Linked DNA regions of Homo sapiens. The protein of the gene in region 4 purifies or fractionates together with the protein of the main gene of each other region. This does not show direct contact. Each region holds a gene or a part of one and is shown on either strand. Other genes may lie near its edges. The genes, in order: BORA, EXPH5, ALMS1, PRELID2, FAM83D and NCOA4.

The links.
Region 1: the proteins of PRELID2 (region 4) and BORA purify together in Homo sapiens (affinity purification with mass spectrometry; one large-scale study listed by BioGRID and IntAct). This does not show direct contact.
Region 2: the proteins of PRELID2 (region 4) and EXPH5 purify together in Homo sapiens (affinity purification with mass spectrometry; one large-scale study listed by BioGRID and IntAct). This does not show direct contact.
Region 3: the proteins of PRELID2 (region 4) and ALMS1 purify together in Homo sapiens (affinity purification with mass spectrometry; one large-scale study listed by BioGRID and IntAct). This does not show direct contact.
Region 5: the proteins of PRELID2 (region 4) and FAM83D purify together in Homo sapiens (affinity purification with mass spectrometry; one large-scale study listed by BioGRID and IntAct). This does not show direct contact.
Region 6: the proteins of PRELID2 (region 4) and NCOA4 purify together in Homo sapiens (affinity purification with mass spectrometry; one large-scale study listed by BioGRID and IntAct). This does not show direct contact.

The regions. Positions count from the first base shown.
Region 1 is NC_000013.11:72,744,923-72,748,422, forward strand, and holds part of BORA (protein aurora borealis), read left to right. Parts: intron 1-58; coding exon 59-285; intron 286-1,021; coding exon 1,022-1,154; intron 1,155-1,578; coding exon 1,579-2,189; intron 2,190-3,500. UniProt on the Homo sapiens protein: Required for the activation of AURKA at the onset of mitosis.
Region 2 is NC_000011.10:108,538,269-108,541,768, reverse strand, and holds part of EXPH5 (exophilin-5), read left to right. Parts: coding exon 1-117; intron 118-2,582; coding exon 2,583-2,745; intron 2,746-3,500. UniProt on the Homo sapiens protein: May act as Rab effector protein and play a role in vesicle trafficking.
Region 3 is NC_000002.12:73,455,336-73,458,835, forward strand, and holds part of ALMS1 (centrosome-associated protein ALMS1), read left to right. Parts: intron 1-1,767; exon of another isoform or gene 1,768-1,991; intron 1,992-2,605; exon of another isoform or gene 2,606-3,500. UniProt on the Homo sapiens protein: Involved in PCM1-dependent intracellular transport. Required, directly or indirectly, for the localization of NCAPD2 to the proximal ends of centrioles.
Region 4 is NC_000005.10:145,821,843-145,825,342, reverse strand, and holds part of PRELID2 (PRELI domain-containing protein 2), read left to right. Parts: intron 1-2,208; coding exon 2,209-2,266; intron 2,267-3,500.
Region 5 is NC_000020.11:38,936,417-38,939,916, reverse strand, and holds part of FAM83D (protein FAM83D), read right to left. Parts: intron 1-3,500.
Region 6 is NC_000010.11:46,024,124-46,027,623, forward strand, and holds part of NCOA4 (nuclear receptor coactivator 4), read right to left. Parts: intron 3,406-3,500; exon of another isoform or gene 3,343-3,405; coding exon of another isoform or gene 3,309-3,342; intron 1-3,308. UniProt on the Homo sapiens protein: Cargo receptor for the autophagic turnover of the iron-binding ferritin complex, playing a central role in iron homeostasis. Acts as an adapter for delivery of ferritin to lysosomes and autophagic degradation of ferritin, a process named ferritinophagy.

The DNA.
Region 1 (3,500 bases), on a different chromosome or scaffold from region 4:
AAGTATAATTGCCCTTTAAAATGACTAGCTTTGCCTTTTCTCCTATTATTAAATATAGGTGACTATTTTAGAGCTGATGAATTTGCAGATCAATCTCCTGGAAACCTCAGTTCTTCATCCCTCAGAAGAAAGCTGTTTTTAGATGGGAACGGAAGCATCTCCGACTCCTTACCTTCGGCTTCTCCCGGAAGTCCTCACAGTGGTGTTCAAACATCACTAGAGATGTTTTATTCAATAGATTTGTCTCCTGTAAAGTGTAGGAGCCCCTTGCAGACACCAAGTTCGGTGAGAAGTATACTAAAAAGCAGTTGGCTAATATGCTGTCAAGCTTGAACCCACATTTTGTTGTTGTTCTATCTTAGGCTTTCAGCAGCCTGAAGCCATGGTTGCTTTCTGTCTCTAGTAAATAAGTGGAAAAGAGGGATGAGGAAGGGCCTTTACTGGCCTAACCAGAAACAGAAACTAAGAACTCATGACTGTATTCTCTCCCTTGGACACCCCTGTGAGCTGCCCAGATTGCTTTCAGAAGGAGGGATGGTTGTCTTTTGAGTATTATGCTTCACAGAAACTAACTCTAGTTCGTATGTTATCATTAGTCATAGGGATGTTTTAGGTCAGACTCTTCAATTTTGTATTTAGATATGTACAGGATGACCAGATTTATCATGAGTCTCAAGGAAATTCAGCATAGGTTATTTACTAAAGTGTGTGAGATTTACAGTATAATACAACTGGCTTGGCATTAATAAATTTAAAAATTTTTCACAGATGGTTGCTTAGTGTGAAACTTAATGGTTTGTTCAAATACAATGTGTTTATATTTTGACTAACATATTTGATACTATTTCAGAATTTTTGTAGCAATCTTCTTAGTTGTCTTTGTTGCAAGGTGTCTTTTGGTGGTTCTCGTGAACTATTACTAGTTTATAAGTGTGTTTTGAAGACCATGATAAATAGCATGCAGCATAAGAGTTAAGGAAGAGAACCATATACATTTATTTACTATTTAATTTTATTACAGGGGCAGTTTTCTTCTAGCCCTATTCAGGCTAGTGCAAAAAAATACAGCTTGGGAAGCATAACTAGTCCTTCGCCTATTTCTTCACCCACTTTCTCACCAATTGAATTTCAGATAGGAGAGACTCCACTCTCAGGTATGTCTCATAATAAAATACCTAGTTAAAAGTTTTATACTATCAATATTTGTTATTAGAGAGGTTCTTTTAATTTGTCTTAATGATAGAGCTCAAAATGATCACTAACCTTCTAACATTTAGGAACTTTGATTTTTAAATAAAAGAACAGTTTACCTTCAAAGGCTGGAATTCTCACCAGTTTGTACTGTAGTGTTAAATATAGTTACTTTAATTAGCAATATTTACATCAAACACTATCAAAGGAAATTTAGCAATTTCCATTTGTGCTATTGTTTTTGACATCACAATTTCACTTTGGTAAACAACACAACTGTTACAGAAATGCAGTTTTTCCTGGCATGAAACATGATTACCATTTAGTAGTGACTTTTCCATTTTCATGTTTTTATGATGTGATTTTTTTTCCCTTCCCACCTTTCAGAACAAAGGAAGTTTACTGTTCATTCTCCTGATGCTTCATCTGGAACAAATTCTAATGGGATAACTAATCCGTGTATCAGAAGTCCTTATATAGATGGCTGCTCGCCAATTAAAAATTGGTCTCCTATGAGACTTCAGATGTATAGTGGTGGTACTCAGTATCGGACCTCAGTGATTCAGATACCTTTTACTCTTGAGACTCAAGGTGAAGATGAGGAAGATAAAGAGAATATTCCTTCCACAGATGTCTCATCACCCGCCATGGATGCTGCTGGAATACACCTACGGCAGTTTAGTAATGAGGCTTCTACCCATGGTACACATTTGGTTGTGACTGCCATGTCTGTTACACAAAATCAGTCCAGTGCTTCTGAGAAAGAATTAGCACTGTTGCAGGATGTTGAAAGGGAGAAAGACAATAACACTGTGGATATGGTTGATCCTATAGAGATAGCAGATGAGACCACTTGGATTAAGGAGCCGGTTGATAATGGCAGTTTACCCATGACTGATTTTGTAAGTGGCATTGCCTTCAGTATTGAAAACTCTCATATGTGCATGTCACCTCTTGCTGAAAGCAGTGTCATTCCTTGTGAAAGCAGTAACATTCAGGTAAGGTATTTAATATTCTATAGCCCCTTCCTCACTGCCTTGGTGTTCTTTATCCTTTCTAAGATTATAGTATAAGAAAGATAATGGATTAAACATGAGGACTACAGTATTATATAATATTTTTTAAAAATATTAATACCAAGTGATATGAGAAGAGTAAATTTATTTTAATTATGACAGATAAGGCATATTTTATATTCACATTAACTGATATTTGTATGGAGTAGGAAAAGGTAAGAGCAGAAAAGAAATTAGCCTGCTCTAGAGAAATCAATCCTGCTAGAGTCAGGCAGGATTCATCACTGTTTCATGTGGATCCAGTCCCCCAAAACATGCAAGGTCTGGTATAGTATTTGCATTCTAAAAATAAAATCATTTTTGTTTTTCCTTTATGTGATTTAGGGGGGATAAAAAGAGTTTAGAGCACTGGTTTTTTTTTTGAGATGGGGTCTCACTCTGTCACCCAGGCTGGAGTGCAGTGGTGTGATCTTGGCTCAGTGCAACCTCCACCTTCTGGGTTCAAGCAATTCTCCTGCCTCAGCCTCCTGAGTAGCTGGGACTACAGGTGTGCGTCACCACACCTGGCTAATTTTTGTATTTTTGTAGAGATAGGATTTAGCTATGTTGGCCAGGCTGGTCTCGAACTCATGACCTCAGTTGATCCGCCCACCTCAGCCTCCCAAAGTGCTGGGATTATAGGCATGAGCCACCGCGCCTGGCCTTAGAGTTCTTTTATGTATGCATTTTTGTGCTTTTCTTTTAGAAACATGATTTATAGCAACATTTTTCATGAAATTATACATTTCCAATTTTGCAATGTCTCTGACAACAGGAAAACCTGATTCATTTAACAGATACGTATACTTCATAATTAGCACTTTGGAAAGGCATTTGTTCCATTCATTGTTGTGTTCTTTGAGCTGAGAATTTTGAAGGAACTTCTTTAGAAGTTCTGACTTTAGTCAGAAGGGGATAGCAATAACATCTAACACTAACGTAGCATTACTATGTGCCAAGTCCTATTCTGAGACCTTTACATGTTTTACTTTGTTGAATTTTTACAGCAATCCTGTGAGGTATGTGTACTGTTATCCCTGTTTTACAGATGAGGAAACTGAGGGTCAGAGAGGTTAAGTAAATTACCTAAAGTTTCTATACAACTAGTAAGTGGAAGAGCTGAGATTTGATCCCAGCAGTCTGGCTTTAGAGTCCATGTTCTTTAATCCAAAAGTTAATACTGACTTATAATAATAGCTAATACGCACATAGTGTTTTGATATACCAGGCACTCTTCTAACCACTTTATTAATT
Region 2 (3,500 bases), on a different chromosome or scaffold from region 4:
TGACTGGTGAATGGTTTGAAGAAATTCAAAGAAAAAAGTTTTGCAATGAAACAGATGTTAGCCAAATGTTAAAACAACCACTTACATACAGGCTAAGTAAGGAGATGGCAAAAAATGGTAAGAAAAAGATTTTAGATTTAAAGTTGATTTCTTTGTTTCTGTGGCATAGTATTGTAGATAATGGCCCAGTGGATCTCCAATGTAACCAATCCATGTTTAGAACTATTTTAAAGTCATAAGCCACAAAAGTTTATAATACAATATACACTAAAAAAAAAAAGTGAACTGAAATTTTACTGTAATAATGTCTTGGATTTTTTTTTGTTTTTTGGGTTTTTTTGAATCAGGCAAGATAGCATAGTGGGTAGGAATATAGACACTGATGTCAACAGAGGCCTGGATTCAAATCTCTACTCTGTCTCTATTCATGCGAGTCTGTCCAAGTCATTTATTCTCTGTAAACCTCAGTTGCTTCATCTTTAAATGAATGCAATGATACCTACACCTCATAAGGTGGTTACGAGAATTAAGTAAAATTATGTTTATAATGTATTAAGCTGGGCAGGGGGTCGGGGGTGGCTCACACTTGCAATCCCAGCACTTTGGGAGGCAGAGGCAGGAGGATCACTTAAGCTCAGGAGTTTGAGACGAGCCTGGGCAACATGGCGAAACCTCATCTCTACAGAAAAATAAAAGATTAGCTGGACATAGTGGTGCCCACCTGTAGCCCCAGCTACTCTGGAGGCTGAGGCAGGAGGATCATTTGAGCCTGGGAGGCAGAGGTTGCAGTGAGCTGAGATCATGCCACTGCACTCCAGCCTGGGCAACAGCGGTAAGACTGCACCTCAAATAAAAAAAAAATAATAGAATATTAAGCTGGAACAGGGTAAGCACTTAAATAAATGGGATGACTATGATGCAGGGGGAGGAAGAAAAAGGGGAGGGGTGGAGGAAGGGAGAATCAGAGATCAGAGGAGAAGGGAGGGAAGGTGGTGGAGGAGCTGCCACACTTCTGGAACTTTGGTAAACTCCATGAATGACTTCTAATAAATGCCTTCTATATAGATTAAAAGGATACTAAAACTTGCTTTCACAGGACTATTGAGAAGATAACCAAAGTGCACTAGAAACTATAAAATACTAAAATAAAATATCTTTTTACTGACGCGGAGTCACATTGACTGCATTTTTGCATGTTATTAACATTAGTAACATCATGAAACATGTAAAAATACTTCTAAACTTCTATGTTGATAATATCTTGCAACTCTCATAATAAACATATCTACGTAAAAAGACTCACAGTTCAGATTTTTTAGATCACCCCCATACATACCCTGATGACTTTTCCCTTGTCCTAAATTCCCCTAATATTTATAAAGTCAGCATGTCCCAAATCATTATAATATTATGGATTTTGTTTAATTTTATTTATTTATTTATTTTGAGATGGAGTCTCACTCTGTCACACAGGCTGCAGTGTAGTGGCATGATCTCAGGTCATTGCAACCTCTACCTCCCGGGTTCAAGCAATTCTCCTGCCTCAGCCTCCTGAGTAGCTGGGATTACAGGCGTGCGCCACCACACCTGGCTAATTTTTTTGTATTTTTAGTAGAGACGGGGTTTCTCCATGTTGGCCAGGCTGGTCTCGAACTCTTGATCTCAGGTGATGCACCGCCCACCTCAGCCTCCCAAAGTACTGGGATTACAGGCGTGAGCTACCGTGCCTGGCCAATATTATGGATTTTGTATATGTTGATGTTGCCTTTGAATTTTTGATACCCATATATTATCTATACATATATATTATACATAAACAGGTTGAATATCCGTTATCTGACATGTTTGGGACTATAAGTATTTCCAATTTCAGATCTTTTTAGATCCTGAAATATTTGCATTATATAAGCTGAAAAGTTGAGCATCCCAAATCCAAAAATCCCAAATCTGAAAGGCTTCAATGAGCATTTTCTTTAAGCATCATGTTGGTGCTCAAATTTTTTTGGATTTTGGGGAAATTTTTGATTTCAAGTTTTTCGGGTTTAGGATGCTCACCCTGTATATGTTACATGCAAACACATATGTAAACCATGTGTGTAGCAAATACATATCCACAGAGAGAGATTTTGGAAAGGAATGAAGAAAAATCTAAATGGCTTAATTTCCTTTTCCTTTACTTTCTTCAGTATAAGAAGTTATGTAGTATGTATCTATCACCATGGTTTTAAGGTACTGAAATAAAAACTTCTGAAGGACAGCATGGTTAAGGAACATGAGAATTGAATGGGGTCCCTGATTTCCTAGCTTGGGTGAGAGGAGGAACACTCTAGGAACTCTGATTCACAGTACACATGGAAAGATTCCCTACTAATTTGAGTTTTCTCTATGCAGCAGAACCATCAGAGGCGCAGGAGAGAGGTTGCTCTGACTGCCTTAATCCCTGAGGTCTTCATGTGAGGTTGCCTGCCCTGTTTCTAGTCTGCATAAGAGGGAGAAAGTGACACAAGAGCAAAGGCTTCATTCTTTCAAGTATATTTACTTGGAAGTAATTGATGCAAAATTTTTACAATTTTTTTTTCTAGATCCGATAGAATTACCTACATCAAGATCTAAAAATGTAACTAATCAAAAAAAGCCGACACCTTTTTCTTCCCGGATGAGCTTCAGATCGTCATTTGCTTCCCTGTTCTCATTCAGGAAATCTGGAAAGGAGACTTCAAAGCTTCCATCACTGGGACAGAAAGGGTGAGTTAAACTCAGGTCATGTTACGGCCCATTTGTTATCCGATATCAGAGGCCAGCAGCCTGTTTTGTGTTCAAAATGTTTAATGTTTGTTCTTAGAATTTCAATTCAATTGGTATTAAGAACAAAGGAAATGGGACTTAACTTGCATAGTGACAAAGTTCTTAGGAAACCATGAAATGTGGCTCACCTGAAATCCAACTTCTAACGAGCTGCAGAGTGCATTGGTGGTGCATTTGGTGAGTGATGGGTTAAATATTGGGAAATAATGATTGCCAGTTTTTCCACTGCTCCAAGAGTCTGGCCTATGTCCTGTCCAGGAAGATATATTTAAATAAAAACTACTCCTTCTTTGCAGAGTATGTGTCCTGGTCACGTCCTGGTCACGTCCTGGTCATAAGGAGAGTTGGGGTAACGACTAGATGAGAGAAAATGTGAGATGAACAAAGAGACTAGAGAAAAATAGAATTCTAAAACAGAGGGAGGAAATGTAATTACTGTTACTAGAAATACTGAAGGCTGTTCCCATGTGTTTGCTCAGAATGTATAAGGTGAGGGAGGAGAAGCTTTAGGAGCAGTGGAAACTTAGTTCCAGATGGTTCCCAGTTTAGAACTGTGCAAATCAGTTCACTTGACTCATTATGTTGTTGGATTACTTTGTGAAAAACAAGCAAGGCTATGCTTAAGTGCAATTGAGCTGACTGCTAAATATTTTCGGCATGTCTTCCTGGTTTCAAAGCTTCCCACCCTCTTAAGG
Region 3 (3,500 bases), on a different chromosome or scaffold from region 4:
GAATGGGTGATGGAATTAGGATCTCTTACTTGGGCATCAGTTGAGTTGCTGATAATATTTGGCTAAAGCCTTTTTTGGTTTTGTTTTTGAGACAGTCTTGCTCTGTTGCCCAGGCTGAAGTGCAGCAGTGCAATCACAGGTCACTGCAGCCCTGAACTCTTAGACTCAAGGAATCCTCCCACCTCAGCCTCTCAGGTAGCTGGGACCACATGTGTGTACCGCCCTGCTCGGCTAATTTTTAAATTTTTGGCAGAGACAGGGTCTCTACGTTGCCCAGGCTGGTCTTGAACGCTTGGATTCAAGCGATCCTCTTGCCTTGGCCTCCCAAAATGCTGGGATTACAGGCATGAGCCACTGTGCCTAGGCAGGCATCTTAATTTTTCAAAAGTTAAGATATAAGTATTAGATTCTTACAGTCTAGATATGTTGTTTTTATTGATTCCAAATTCATATTTTGAAAAATTTATCTTCTTAGAAAAATAAGAACTGATTTGCTTGTTTTATCAATTTTTTTTTTAAGAACAGAGAAGACTAAATGTCACCCTTATTTTCTCTTGAAAGTGGTATCTTGAAATCCAGCTATTTTCAAATGTTTATTTTAAATACTTGAGTACACAGCTATAATAGCTTATGTATAAATGGCTTTCATTTTAATAGTACATATTTTCCTTCTATTAACTATTTCATATGTAGAAAAGAGCATATATGAATCATTTATGTAAAGAATAGCAGCAAGTAAAAATAATTCCCATATATTTACTATCGAGCTTGAGAAATAGAACATTACCAAATACTGTTGAAGTTCTTTGTTTCTCCTTTCCCAGTCATATCTTTTTTATTTCTTATTTTGATATATAATGATTTTCCTTCTCTTCAGTATGGTTTTGAACTCTAAGATGGAATCAATATGATACATATTCTTTTGAGAACTAGGTGTTTCACACAGTGTTAGGGTTTTGAGCTGCTTCTATGTAGATGTGCAGAGTTTTCATTTGTTCCTTATTACTGTACAGTATTCCAGTGTGTGATTACATGATAATTTATTCTTTCTCCTGTGGATAAGGCATTTTGTCTGCTATTTTGCATAGTAATAGGGTATAATAATGCCTATCGTAGAGGGTTTTGGTGTGGATTATGTGAGATAATGCCTATAAAATGCTTAGTAGAACGTGTGATGTCTAGTTAGTACTCAGTAACTGGCAGCTATTATTACTATTATTAATCCTGAAAGAATTGATATAGCTATCATGCAAGGATTTCATGGCCTGATTCATACAAAGTTTCTTAGAAAACTATTCTCCAGTGATATAGTTTATTTGGATTATCTCAATTTTGGAAAAGTTTGAAAAGTACAAATTAGATTGGATTTTAGGTTTTACGTATATGCTTGTGAAAAACAAAATTGACAAAATAATAAGAATAATAAAATGGGCAATTGGTTGTCTTAGCACCATTTGTATATATGCTGCCAAAGTGAGCACTATCCTAGCATCATTTGTTTAAAATTACATAGTTTTCTCAGTGATCTGTGTTTCCCTATTTTTAAAAATTATTTTCTTGCGTTCATATTTCCAGATCCCTCAGCAAGCAAGTTGCCTTCCTTTGGGTAGACTCTGGTTTGTCTGTGTTTTTCTTAAAATAAGGTGTCCTGAATTAGATGAAACACAATTTCACTTCTGATCTGACCAGCATGAAGTATATTCAGTAATTCTCTTTCTGTCAATGTACTGTGAGATCTTTAATGGTCACAGCATAATTGGGCATTAAAAAAAACCATGTACTGCTTTCAAAACTTAAAGCTGTAGGAAAAAAGCAAAGCAAAACAAACCAAACAAAAACCATGAACTGCTGCCAAGATTCCTATTCTCATTTCTTGTATCTATATAATACTTTTTTAAAAATCTTCTTATTTTTGAGACAGAGTCTCACTTTATTGCCCAGGCTGGACTGCAGTGGCATGATCTTGGCTCACTGCAACTTCTACATCCCAGGTTCAAGTGATTCTCCTGCCTCAGCCTCCCGGGTAGCTGGGATTACAGCTGTGTGAGTGGCGCATGACACCACATCCAGCTGATCTTTGTATTTTTAGTAGAGATGGGGTTTCACTATGTTGGCCAGGCTGGTCTTGAACTCCTGACCTCAAGTGATCCGCCTGCCTCGGCCTCCCAAAATGCTGGGATTACAGGCCATTACGCCTCGCCCTATGTAATACTTTTTAACTCTCCTGTATTTCTTTTTATTGCTTTTATATCAGTGTTCAAGCCTATTGGAATGATTTTTAATCAAATTTGATCATTTATTTTATTAAAATATCCCTTTCAGCTTTGTGCCATTTATATATTTGATAAGTATTTTTATCCAAATTAGCAATAAAAATGTTTACTAAGGGCTATGGATAAAAAGTCTAAAACTTTTGGCTGGGCGCGGTGGCTCATGCCTGTAATCCTAGCACTTTGGGAAGCCAAGGTGGGTGGATCACTTGAGGTCAGGAGTTCGAGACCAGCCTGGCCGACGTGGTGAAACCCCGTCTCTACTAAAAATACAAAAATTACCTGGGTGTCATGGTGCATGCCTGTAATCCTAGCTACTCGGGAAGCTGAGGCAGGAGAATTGCTTGAACCTGGGAGGTGGAGATTGTAGTGAGCCGAAGATTGTGCCAGTGCACTCCAGCCTAGGCGACAGAGGGAGACTTTGTCTCAAAAAAAAAAAAAAAAAAAAGGTCTAAAACTTTTGAATAAGATTACTCTCACACCTATTTTGAGTACTTCACTATACTGTCATTCAACCATCTTGTGTTTCACCATCTTATGATTGACTTTTTTCAGTCTATTAACTGAGTAGTTGCGAAATAGTGTTTGTCTAGATATGCCTTGTCCTTAGGGAACCCATATTGGCCACACTGTGTACGGTTTTGGACCTTTTATTTTTTTAACTTAAATATATTAGGATTTCCCTTTAAAACTTCTCTAAAAGCATAATTTCACAGGTATGTAATATCCCATTGTATGAACATAACAATTTATTCACTACCCTACTGTTGGACATTTATTCATTCATTCCAAAAATACATATTGAATGCCTGATATGCGCCATCCTCATCTATAGCCTGAGGACACACCACTGAACAAAATAGACAAACATTTCTTCATCATGAGCTTACATTAAGGAAGAGTATATGAATAACAACCAAACAAGTAAAATAAATGTCAGATGGTGGGATAAGAGCCAGGGAGACAAAGCAGAATGGTCAACACAGAACCTGAGAAAGAGGTATTGAATTAAATATCTGAGTAAGGTGAGAAAGTAAGGCAGTTAACAGTGACAAGAGCATTCCAGACAGAAATAGCATGCACACAGTTGCTGAGGTAAAGTGTGTGAAAGGAAAGGGAGTGTTAAAGGAAAGGGAGGAGGCCAGTGTGTTTGGAGAGTGAGAGTGAAAGGGAGAAGACTAGATTGTGGAAGGCAGTGGTTCTTGACGGGTAGTAAATGCCTCCCAAAGA
Region 4 (3,500 bases):
GAGTATCTAAACCTGACCCTCTGTCATGGGCATGTAACTCGGAAGGGCTGAACTTCAAGAAAGCAATCACTGTAGTTCCAAGTTTTTTTTTTTTTTTTTTTTTTTTTTTTTTTTTTTGAGACAGAGTCTCACTCTATCACCGAGGCTGGAGTGCAGTGGCATGATCTCGGCTCACTGCAACCTCCGCCTCCCAGGTTCAAGCAATTCTCCTGCCTCAGCATCCTGAGTAGCTGGGACTACAGGCATGCACCACCACATCTGGCTAATTTTTGTATTTTTAGTAGAGACAGGGTTTCACTATTTTGGGCAGGCTGGTCTCAAACTCCTAACCTCAAGTGATCCACCCGCCTCAGCCTCCCAAAGTGCTGGGATTACAGGCATGAACCTCCATGCCCAGCCAAGCATTTTTTTTTCTAGGGCTAAAATGAGTGAATGAATGAATATATAAATAAATAGATTTTTAAAAACCAAGTTTTTCATCAGTTATCAAGATTTCAGTTTCCAGGATGGAAGTGTGAATGACAGAGTTTACCAACATGAAACATGAAGAGATATTGAGGTTGCTGAAAGCTGAGCCACTGCTCTCTTCATAGATTGGTTTCTGACTGAAGGCAGGCTCATTTTCCAAATTGATCCCTGAGGTCATTGAGGTTTATATTCCCAATTTTTTATTTATCCAGAAAATATTGACTGAGTGCTTTTTATGTGCCAGGCATTACGCTGGCTGTTGGAGATACAGGAGTAACTGAAATAGACAGTATTCCTGCCCTCAGAGAGCCTGTGTTCTAATCTAGTGTCTTTTTGGGTCACAGATATCTTTAAGAATGTGTTAAAATGATGAACCCCTTTCCCTGAAAAATCCATTAATAAATCAATATCACACACACACACACACACACACACACACACACACACACGCCTGCTGTGGGTGGAGACCCACAGTCAGAGTTTTGTATTTCACTTCCTAGGGTTCGGAAAACTTAAAGCTCAAGTTTGCAAAGTGAGGGGCCTTTCTTCTTTCTCCCCTCAGCCTGCCTGCTGCTTTTGCCTTCTGCTCAGCACTTTGTGATGTCATGGATAAGACTTCCTGCCAATTTTCTTTTCAGATTTGATCACATGATACGTCGGTAAACCTCAGGGAAGAGAGTCCAAGGGGGCTCAGTAGGCTTTGGTCAGCAGCTACCTTGTCCTGTGGCTTCTAGGAGGTCACTTCTGCTCCCAGTGTCTCTCTTTTCACATCTGAGTAGTGGAAAGGATTGTGTTAATTTAACTCTTAGGTGATTTGGTGGTAGGTTAGGTGGGCAGGCTTTGCAGGCTGGCAGAAAGTATCGGGGGTAAATTATGTTACCCCCCAGATACACTATTCATTAGCTGGACAATTTGAGCAAATTATCTAATTTGTCTAAGCCTTATTTTTCATATATGAAGTGGAAAAAATAACACATACCTTATAGAATGGTTTTGTGAATTAACTGAGCTAATGTATCTAAAGTATTTAAATTGCCTACGACAAAAGCAGTGGCTATTATCAACCTTGTCACAGCCAAATTGCTTTTCAGGGGAATTAAATTAACATGTTAAATATTTATTGAGTATTTACTATGTGCCTAGCAAAGCATACTTCTATGACTATGCTACTGTGATGCTAACCCAGCCACCAGACAATGATATTAGACCACAGTGAAGAGGTCCACTCTGTATTAAACAGGCCTGGTTTAATTCCCTGGCTCCACCAGGAGCCAGCTGGGTGACCCTAAGCAATCCAGTCTTCATTCAGTTTCCGTATCTGAAAGATGGGGATGGTGGTATCACATAAATCAGTTATAACAGAGAGGCTGTTGGATTTAGACAAGATTGTGCAAGGAAAGCATTTAGTACAGTGCCTAGCACAAAGAACACTCTTGATTTATGTTAGGCTGGTTCAATATTAATAGTATTATTATTTACTGATTAGCTTAACCTCATCCCCCTCAGGGCTAGTTGGATCTAAAGAAGGTTTTCCCCAGATTTCATGTAAGTCAAGATGATGATAGCATCTCACTTATCTAGGCCCAAGTTATAAAATTAAGATCCATGATTCAAAACTGGGCTTTGTTTAGAAGTTTCTTGGAAAATATTTACTAGTCCTGCAGACAGCTGTGGTTACTTCTAAATAGTTCACCTTGGTAGAAGATTAATGGTAATTCTTTTTTATATATTTTTGTTTAGTACCCCAACCCCATGGATAAAAATGTCATCTCAGTAAAAATCATGGAGGAAAAAAGAGGTAAGTTCTCTGTACAGTTTTTTCAGTAATGATCATTAAATGATAGTGATTTTTGTAAAGATGTGTGTACGTGTGTGTGTGGCCTATTAGGTTTTTTTTAAAAAATTGTTCACCTGCAGTTTCTTCCATTATTAGTTTTTAAACAGGTATATTTCTGTACTTGAGGTGACTTAGAAAGGTGTGGCAGGTAGAGCACCAGGATTTGTGATAGTAAAAGGCCTGCTGATGCTTTTTGTCACTTTCTAACTAATAATTGATGACAACACTGAGCTATATATAATTGTAACTGCTAACATTTTTGAGCACTTAATATGTGGCAGGTACTCTTATTAATTCATTTAATATTCAGAACAATGTTTGGAATAGGTGTTAGACTACTCATTTAATGAATGGAGAAACTGGGATACAGAGAAGTTAAGTGACTTGCTCAAGGTCACATGGCTGTAGCCTATTATATCATTTTGTAGATGGCAAAATGCATATGATTAAATACGAGATATGACTATAAAGTGATGGCTTATGGAATCACAACTACTAGGCAGTGTGGTTTAGCATTGACTAAATCAGGAGTTGACAAGCTATGGCTTGTGCTGCCTGTTTTAGTAAATAAAGTTTGACTGGAACATAGTCACATTTGTTTACATGTCATCTACGACTGCTTCCTCACTACAACAGCAGAGTTGACCAGTTGCCACAGAGACTTTATTGCCCACAAAACTTAAATTATTTAGCACCTGATTCTTTGCAGAAAATGTTTACTGATTCCTGGTCTAGAGCATAGGAATCTCTTCTGTTCTGTGTTATCCCCATCTCCAGCAAAAACCATTATTAGTGTCAGTGTTTAAACTTGAGAACTGGGCAATGCAGGAAGCTGTGACAATGCACATAGTCAATGTACAAAGCTTTGGGGACACTGGGGCCTAGGTCCAGCATGCTCTTTACCCTTCTTAGGAATCATGAGATGCTACTGTTCATTGTGTGTGACTCTGAAGCCCTCTCTGTGCTTGGTAAACATAACTGCCTTTTGCTTGTATATGCATTTTCTGTAATTCTATAACCATATAGATATATTAAAAATATTTTCTCATGTACCTGCAGTGTGAGAGAAACTTATTATTTGTCATCAGACAAACTGGATTTCAAATCTTGATTTCATTACTACCTTGGTGACCCAACTTTTTGGAGCCTCAGTTTCTTCATCTGTCAAACGGGAAAATAATCTTGTTTTTAGGTT
Region 5 (3,500 bases), on a different chromosome or scaffold from region 4:
CAAAATTAATAGCATCTGGGTCAAAGGGCTGCTGTGAGGATTAAGTGAAACAAAGCATGGAAAGGGCTTAGCACAGGGAGGGCAAGGCAGGAAACAGGTGCTATTATGCAGCCAGCACCTCCTCAGAGCACGCTGTGGGCTGCACACTGCACTAGGCAGAAAGATGGCTATGAGGAATTTGACATAGACCCAACTTACCTCAAGGAGAGGACACAGGATGCAGAGAGGCAAAATGATATATACAGCCTAAGCAATTAAACTAAGGGGGCCGGGCATGATGGCTCATGCCTGTAATCCCAGTGCTTTGGGAGGCCGAGGTGGGTGGATTACCTGAGGTCAGGAGTTTGAGAGCAGCCCGGCCAACACGGTAAAACCCCATCTCTACTAAAAATACAAAAAATTAGATGAACATGGTGGCATGCACCTGTCATCCCAGCTACTAGGAAGGCTGAGGTACAAGAATCACTTGACCCTGGGAGGTGAAGGTTGCAGTGAACCGAGATCGCACCACTGCACTCCAGCCTGGGCAACAGAGCAAGACTCCATCTCAAAAAACAAAACAAAACAAAACAAAACAAAAACAAGGTGTCTCCTCCAGTGGTGGACTATGGGCACTATAGGTACTCAAATGCTTACCAGATAAGAGCAGGGAAGGCTTCCTGGAGGAGATGGCATTTGAGCTGAAGCACAAGGACAAAATTTGGACAAGGGCATGGGAGAAGTGAAGGGAGGAGAAGGCATTCCCGCAGGAAGCCACATGATAACAGAGGAAGAGGTAGGGCATGACGGGGTATGTACCAGTCTGGCTGGAACGTACAGCATGCATGAAAGGGAGCCACGGGACATGACTGGAAAAGACGGATGAATGAGCAAGATCACAGAAGGCCCTGAATGCCAACCAAGGAATCAGTTTCAATCTTCCCCACATTGCCTGTATAAGAGTAATGAGTTCGAAGTGAAGAATCCAACAGGATGGAAGAAACTGATGCCAGAAGAGATTGGTATAGGTCAGAGATCTGGGCCCACCTCCTCCAACACAGGACCTGCAACACAGCAGTCACGTGGATATTCTTTAGGTTAAGCAACTTCAATAAATGTTTAGGAGGACTAGAGACCAGATGAAGACAAATCAGTAGCACGGCAGAAGCAATGAGGGTTGCAGAAGAGGGAAGGAGATCATGGGAGAGCCGAGCAGTGGGCGACATGGGCTGAGGATGACAGGGAGAGGGATATTCAGATACAAGGAAACAGGAAACACAAGACAAGAAGCAAGAGTGAGGGGTGAGCTTCGAAACGGATTTTGAGGTGGCAGTAAAACCTTCAAAAAGAGGTTTGGAATATGCAGGTGTACAAATGAGAGTAGAGCTCACAGGAGAAAGCTAAAGAGGAAAATGCACACACCTGCTTGCCTCTCTGATTTCCCACTCTTCTTTCAAATCTTCATTGTGGACCCAATCGAGGCAGGCAGGTGTTGAGCACTGAGGATCTAGTGTCAATCCCTGTCCTCAAGAACGCAGTCTAATGAGACAGGAGACAAGCCAGGGGTAACAGAGTGTGACGGGCCAAAGGACACGTTCCCTCAGTGCTACTGGAACAGAGATCAGAAAAACCCAGCCCAGCTGCTGGATTAGAGACCTGCTGGAGGCAGGGGCATGGGCCTGGGGGCCCACAGCACAAGGCACGGCCAAGCTGAATTTTGATTCACCACTTAACAAAACAATTGTGCAACACCTTTGTTATATGGTGAGTAAATACCTAATTTGCTATTTGTTCCATTGTTTGGTTTTAAAGCCTCACCCTTTCCTGTGCGTTGGATTTGAACACTAGTCCTTAACACCATCAGGGTGCGTAGGGTTGATGGAGGTTTTTTTCTTCCCCTGACTTCCCCTACACCCAGCATCCACTCCTTTCTTACTAAAGCAGGACTCTTAAAAATATTCGTCTATTTTTTTGTTTCTGGAGATGCAGTTTCACCCTGTCGCCCAGGCTGGAGTGCAGTGGTGTGATCTCGGCTCACTGCAACCTCCGCCTCTGAAGCACAAGCAATCCTCCCACCTCAGCCTTCCAAGTAGCTGGGACTACAGGCACACGCCACCACACCTGGCTAATTTTTGTAGACACAGAATCCCACCATGTTGCCCAGGATGGTCTCCAACTTCTGAGCTTAAGTGATCCACCCACCTTGGCCTCCCAAAGTGCAGAGATTACAGGCATGAGCCACCATGCCCAGCCAAAAGTACTTGTCTTTTACAGAGGAAAAGTCCATAGTCCTACTGTAGAAGCAATCAGTAGGGAAGTCTTCCTTCAAATCCCCATCCCCATCCCCCATTCCTGTGTCCCAGCCCTCATGCAACCAATCCCTGCATAGCTGAAGTAGACCTGGGGCTAGACTGAAGGGACACTCTCTTCACTGAGCTGAGCAATGACCTGGACTCATCCACTAACCGGCCGAGTCCTGCTTTCCAAGCCAGGATGCAACTCCTAGGTATCCGGTGCTCTTGCTGCAGCCTGTGGGTCCAGAAATACACCTGATGTGTATTTGGCCACTGCTCCCACTCCTGGAGGCAATAATGTGCGAAGGACAATGGCATGTCTGGAAGGCAGGCAGCCCTTGCACATCAAGTGCCCACAGTCATGGCACTCTCCCAGTCTGTGCTGCATGGAGCCCACCCACTCTCTAAGGACTAGAAAGTCGTGAGAGTGGTGACTTTCAAGAGTCCCTTCCAGGGTCAACACCCATTTGCAATTTGCAACTCAGTGCAAGTCAGTTACAACAGGAGACGTGAGGAGGACGCATCCAGCTGGTCAGGGGCATAATGGCCGGCCTGCTGACCAGGACCCCACTGTTCCTGCACTTCTCCAGCCATATCTGGAGCAGCTGCATGTGTGTCCACTCTCACATCATCATCTCAGGTAACAAATCACAAGCCTACCTCTCTCAGTCCTTCTACCTGTCCCCTCCTGATTTGTACCAAGGGACTTGGGAACCTATGTAGTTGAACAGCAGACGTCATGATGGCCTTCTTGGTCTCTGGGAAGGTCACAGACCCTGTTTATGTTACTTGCCACATAGAACTGAACTCTTTTCTGCTTGCCTTCTTGCACAAAAGCTCAAAAGTGCTATCTAGAAATTTCAAAACCCCATTACCTGTCATCCCCAATTTATAGATGAGAAAGCCAAAGCTTGGAGAGGTTAGGTAGCTTGTTCAAGGTGACAAACTTAAACAAGTACAAGGGCTGGAATTTCAACCCAGGTCTCTGTGACTCCGGAGCCATCTAAAAAAAGTACTATACTCAGTATTTTATATCATTCCAACCAAGTTTAATGGGCAGTTTTTCACATGACTGGAAGCTTAGAACAAACACTAAAGGATCAGTGGCGTAGCCCATGAAGTGCATGGGCTCAAGCTCACCACGGATGATTGACAGTACCTATCTCATAGTGTTTGCTGGCAGTTCCTGGCATATGGAAAGCCCTTAAATGGCAGCTACTCATATTC
Region 6 (3,500 bases), on a different chromosome or scaffold from region 4:
TTTCTGGGACCCCAATCCAGGCATTCATTATCAAAAATAAGAAAATTTCTCCCTAATTCCAAAAGCCCTCCTTGGATAATACATTTCGTAAAGACACAAAAAAAACAGACATACTTCTGAATGACTAAAGTTACAATTTTATGGTCCTTTGTACTAATTTACATCAATGGCAACAAAGAAGGAATTCTATTAAAATATAACTCATGTCAGGAACTTTCATCTATTTTATGTGCCTCTGAAAAATGGCTGATCACAATGTAAATACAAAGAAACTTTGTTGGCCGTCACCTACTTAACCAACGGTCTCTGTTCTCTCTCTAAAAGATCCTGACCAACGCCCCAGCACAGTAAAGTCTTCAGCTACTCCCCTATGTATATGTTCACTGAGTTTCACAGTTATATTCATTTGTGTTTCTCTCCTCAAGCCAGCTGTAGCTGTTACTATAATGATGTGATTTATTAAATATTACATAAACATAAAAAGACTAAGGAGAAAGAAAATCACAAAAATCTAAAATTCTGCACTCAGACCACTTTACATGTAGCTTTTTACTCCCTTATGCTTCAGTATTTGCCCTTGTGTCTTTATAAAATGTTTAGGTTCTAAAGGGGAAAAATGCATAAGGTATTTTACCTCTCTTCTGCTTCAAGAATTTCTATGCTGTCTCAAAACAACAACCAACCATCCCAAGTAGATCATCTCATCTAAAGCAGCGTAGCTCTCCTATGGCTCCCCATTTGCCTACAGGATAAAGTCCAAATTTCTTTTAAAGGCAATAAGGCTCCTGAGTTAGGGTTCTCCAGAGAGATGGAACATTATATAGACAGACATAGATATAGACATAAAGATATATACAGATATAGATATGAGAGGGGATTTATTAGGGGAACTGGCTCATGTGATTAGCAGGCTGAGACATCCCATGACAGGCTGTCTGCAAGCTGGAGACCCTGGGATGCCAGTACCATGGCTCAGTCCAAGTGCAAAGGCCTCAGAACCAGGAAAGCAGATGGTGTAACTCTCAGTCTGAAGCCAAAGGCCTGAGAACCCAGGGGGCCAATGATACAAGTCCTGAAGCCCAAAGCCTGGGGAGCCTGGAGTTCTGTTGTCCAAAGACAGGAGAGGAAGAATGTATCCCAGCTCCAGCAAATAGATCTGCCTTTTCAATGTTTTTGTTCTCTCTGGGCCCCAGCAGATTGGATGGTGCCCACACACACTGAGGGTGGATTTTCCCCACCTAATCCACTTGGATTCACACCCCAATATCCTCTGGAAACAGACACACCCCAAAATAACATTTTACCAGGTTTCTAGATGTCCTTAATCCAGTCAAGTTGACACCTAAAATTAACCATCACAGCTGTCTATTTCCTGGCCTCACTCTGACTCTCCTGCTGTCTCCCAGAACAGCTCCCACACCCTAATCTACTGGACAGCTTTTCTATGCATAGGATAGTTTGGTTTATCTTGTGCAGCTTGGCTATGCCAGTTCTGTCAGCAATGCCAGTCTCTCCTCTTCTCCCTACCTATCTGCTTTTCAAGTCACCATCACTAACTACAAAGCCTTTCCTGACTGAGCACCTCACTCCTCAATACTTTTGGCCAATAGAGTTGGCTGCTCCCTCCTGCATTACCACTGTAATCTGTATGGGTTTCCGGCAGGACGCCTGTAACATATGTTACCCTATTGTTACATGCCTGCCTCCTTAGCCTGAGGGCTCCATGAGAGAAGAAACCATGTCTTATTTATGAATTAATAGCTTTGTACATCCTAATACTAAGCAGACAACCTGGTATCAGTACCTTGTCATTACCAACCGTTCACATTCTATGTGTGCCACTGAATCGACATAAAGAGAAAATGTCCCTGGCAATTGTACAATGCTTCACCCTAAATTCAACAGAGGCCTAAGACATTTTGGACAAACGGATGAATATATGATAAATTAATGTTTAGGTTCAGACTAGCCACAGTAAGTATGGTATAGTTCTGCTTTAAACATAGATAATCAACTTGATGTCCCACTAAGGCCTGTATTAATGCAGGAAGGTTTTTTCAGAGAAAGAAAATGTTTCTAGCACAACTATTACTTTTGGCTTTTTTCAAACAAGACAAAGCTGGCAAGGGTGTTGCCACTGAAAGTATGATCCCAGAATAAGTGCTGAGATAGTGTCTTTCCTGCTGCCAGAACCACAAAGCTCAGCTTCATGGATTCACACAAATAGCAGCAAGATTGTGGGTTAAAGGGGACACATTTACTGTATTTTACAGCCAACTCTGGATTTTTTCTTCAGAGTTGGCAGTACCACAGAAATTCTAACTGAATTTCAAGTTGAATATTGGGGGGACTATATTCAACTTGAAACTTCTTGCCATAATAGAGTCAAGGATAGGAAAATATGTTAACTTACCTACTATCACAGTAATAATGCCATTTTATCCTGATTTTATATGGCAAACACTTTGTGGTTCTCCCCATAGAAGCCAACAAGTGATAAAATATTAATATTTTCCCTCCTTTAAAGCCTAGAGGACTAACAATAATGCCAAAATAAAGCTCAAAACACACCTGAGATTATCTTCTTTTGAAAGCTGAAATTGTCTCAGTATTAAAAGACTTAACTTCTCACCCATGACCAAACTGACAACAAAACCTTTTAACCTATTTTGTGAGCTACTCACTACTTCACTGAACCAAACTGCCATATTTGTAGAGCACTTAGGTAATGCTGCATAAGAGGAATATTAAGCCCCAAAGGTGCCCCCAAACACACTGCTAACCCCAAAGAGGAACATCTTGATTAATCAAGCCAAGCAAAATTAGGGATGACAACTTGGGATAAGAATGACTAAGAGTGGTCCGGGCGCGGTGGCTCACGCCTGTAATCCCAAAACTTTGGAAGGCCGAGGCGGGCGGATCACGAGGTCAGGTCAGGAGATCAAGACCATCCTGGCTAACACGGTGAAACCCCATCTCTACTAAAAAACACAAAAAATTAGCTGGGCGTTGTGGCGGGTGCCTGTAGTCCCAGCTACTCGGGAGGCTGAGGCAGAAGAATGGCGTGAACCCGGAAGGCGGAGCTTGCAATGAGCGGAGATCGCCCACTGCACTCCAGCCTCCTGACAGAGCAAGACTCCGTCTCAAAAAAAAAAAAAAAAAAAAGAATGATTAAGACTTAAGACTGTAGTCATTCATATCAGAAGTTAAGCATTGCAATGTTATGATTTAACAATCAAAGAAGATAAGCTAAGGACAATATGGCAGCTCCTCTAACTGACATGCATGGAGATAGTATTAATGCCTACCAGCTAGAGCAAAAGTGGTCAACTGGGCCCCCATTCCAGCCTAGACCTCCACATTGTTCATGTGCGTTCTATGTTGAAGCAATGTGTCCAGACATAACTGTATGAAAACAAAGTCAAGATGAAAACCTTGGATGAAAATTTTAAAAGGACTAAAAAGTAGCAAGAAGAGTAATAAAAAATGCCATGGCCTTC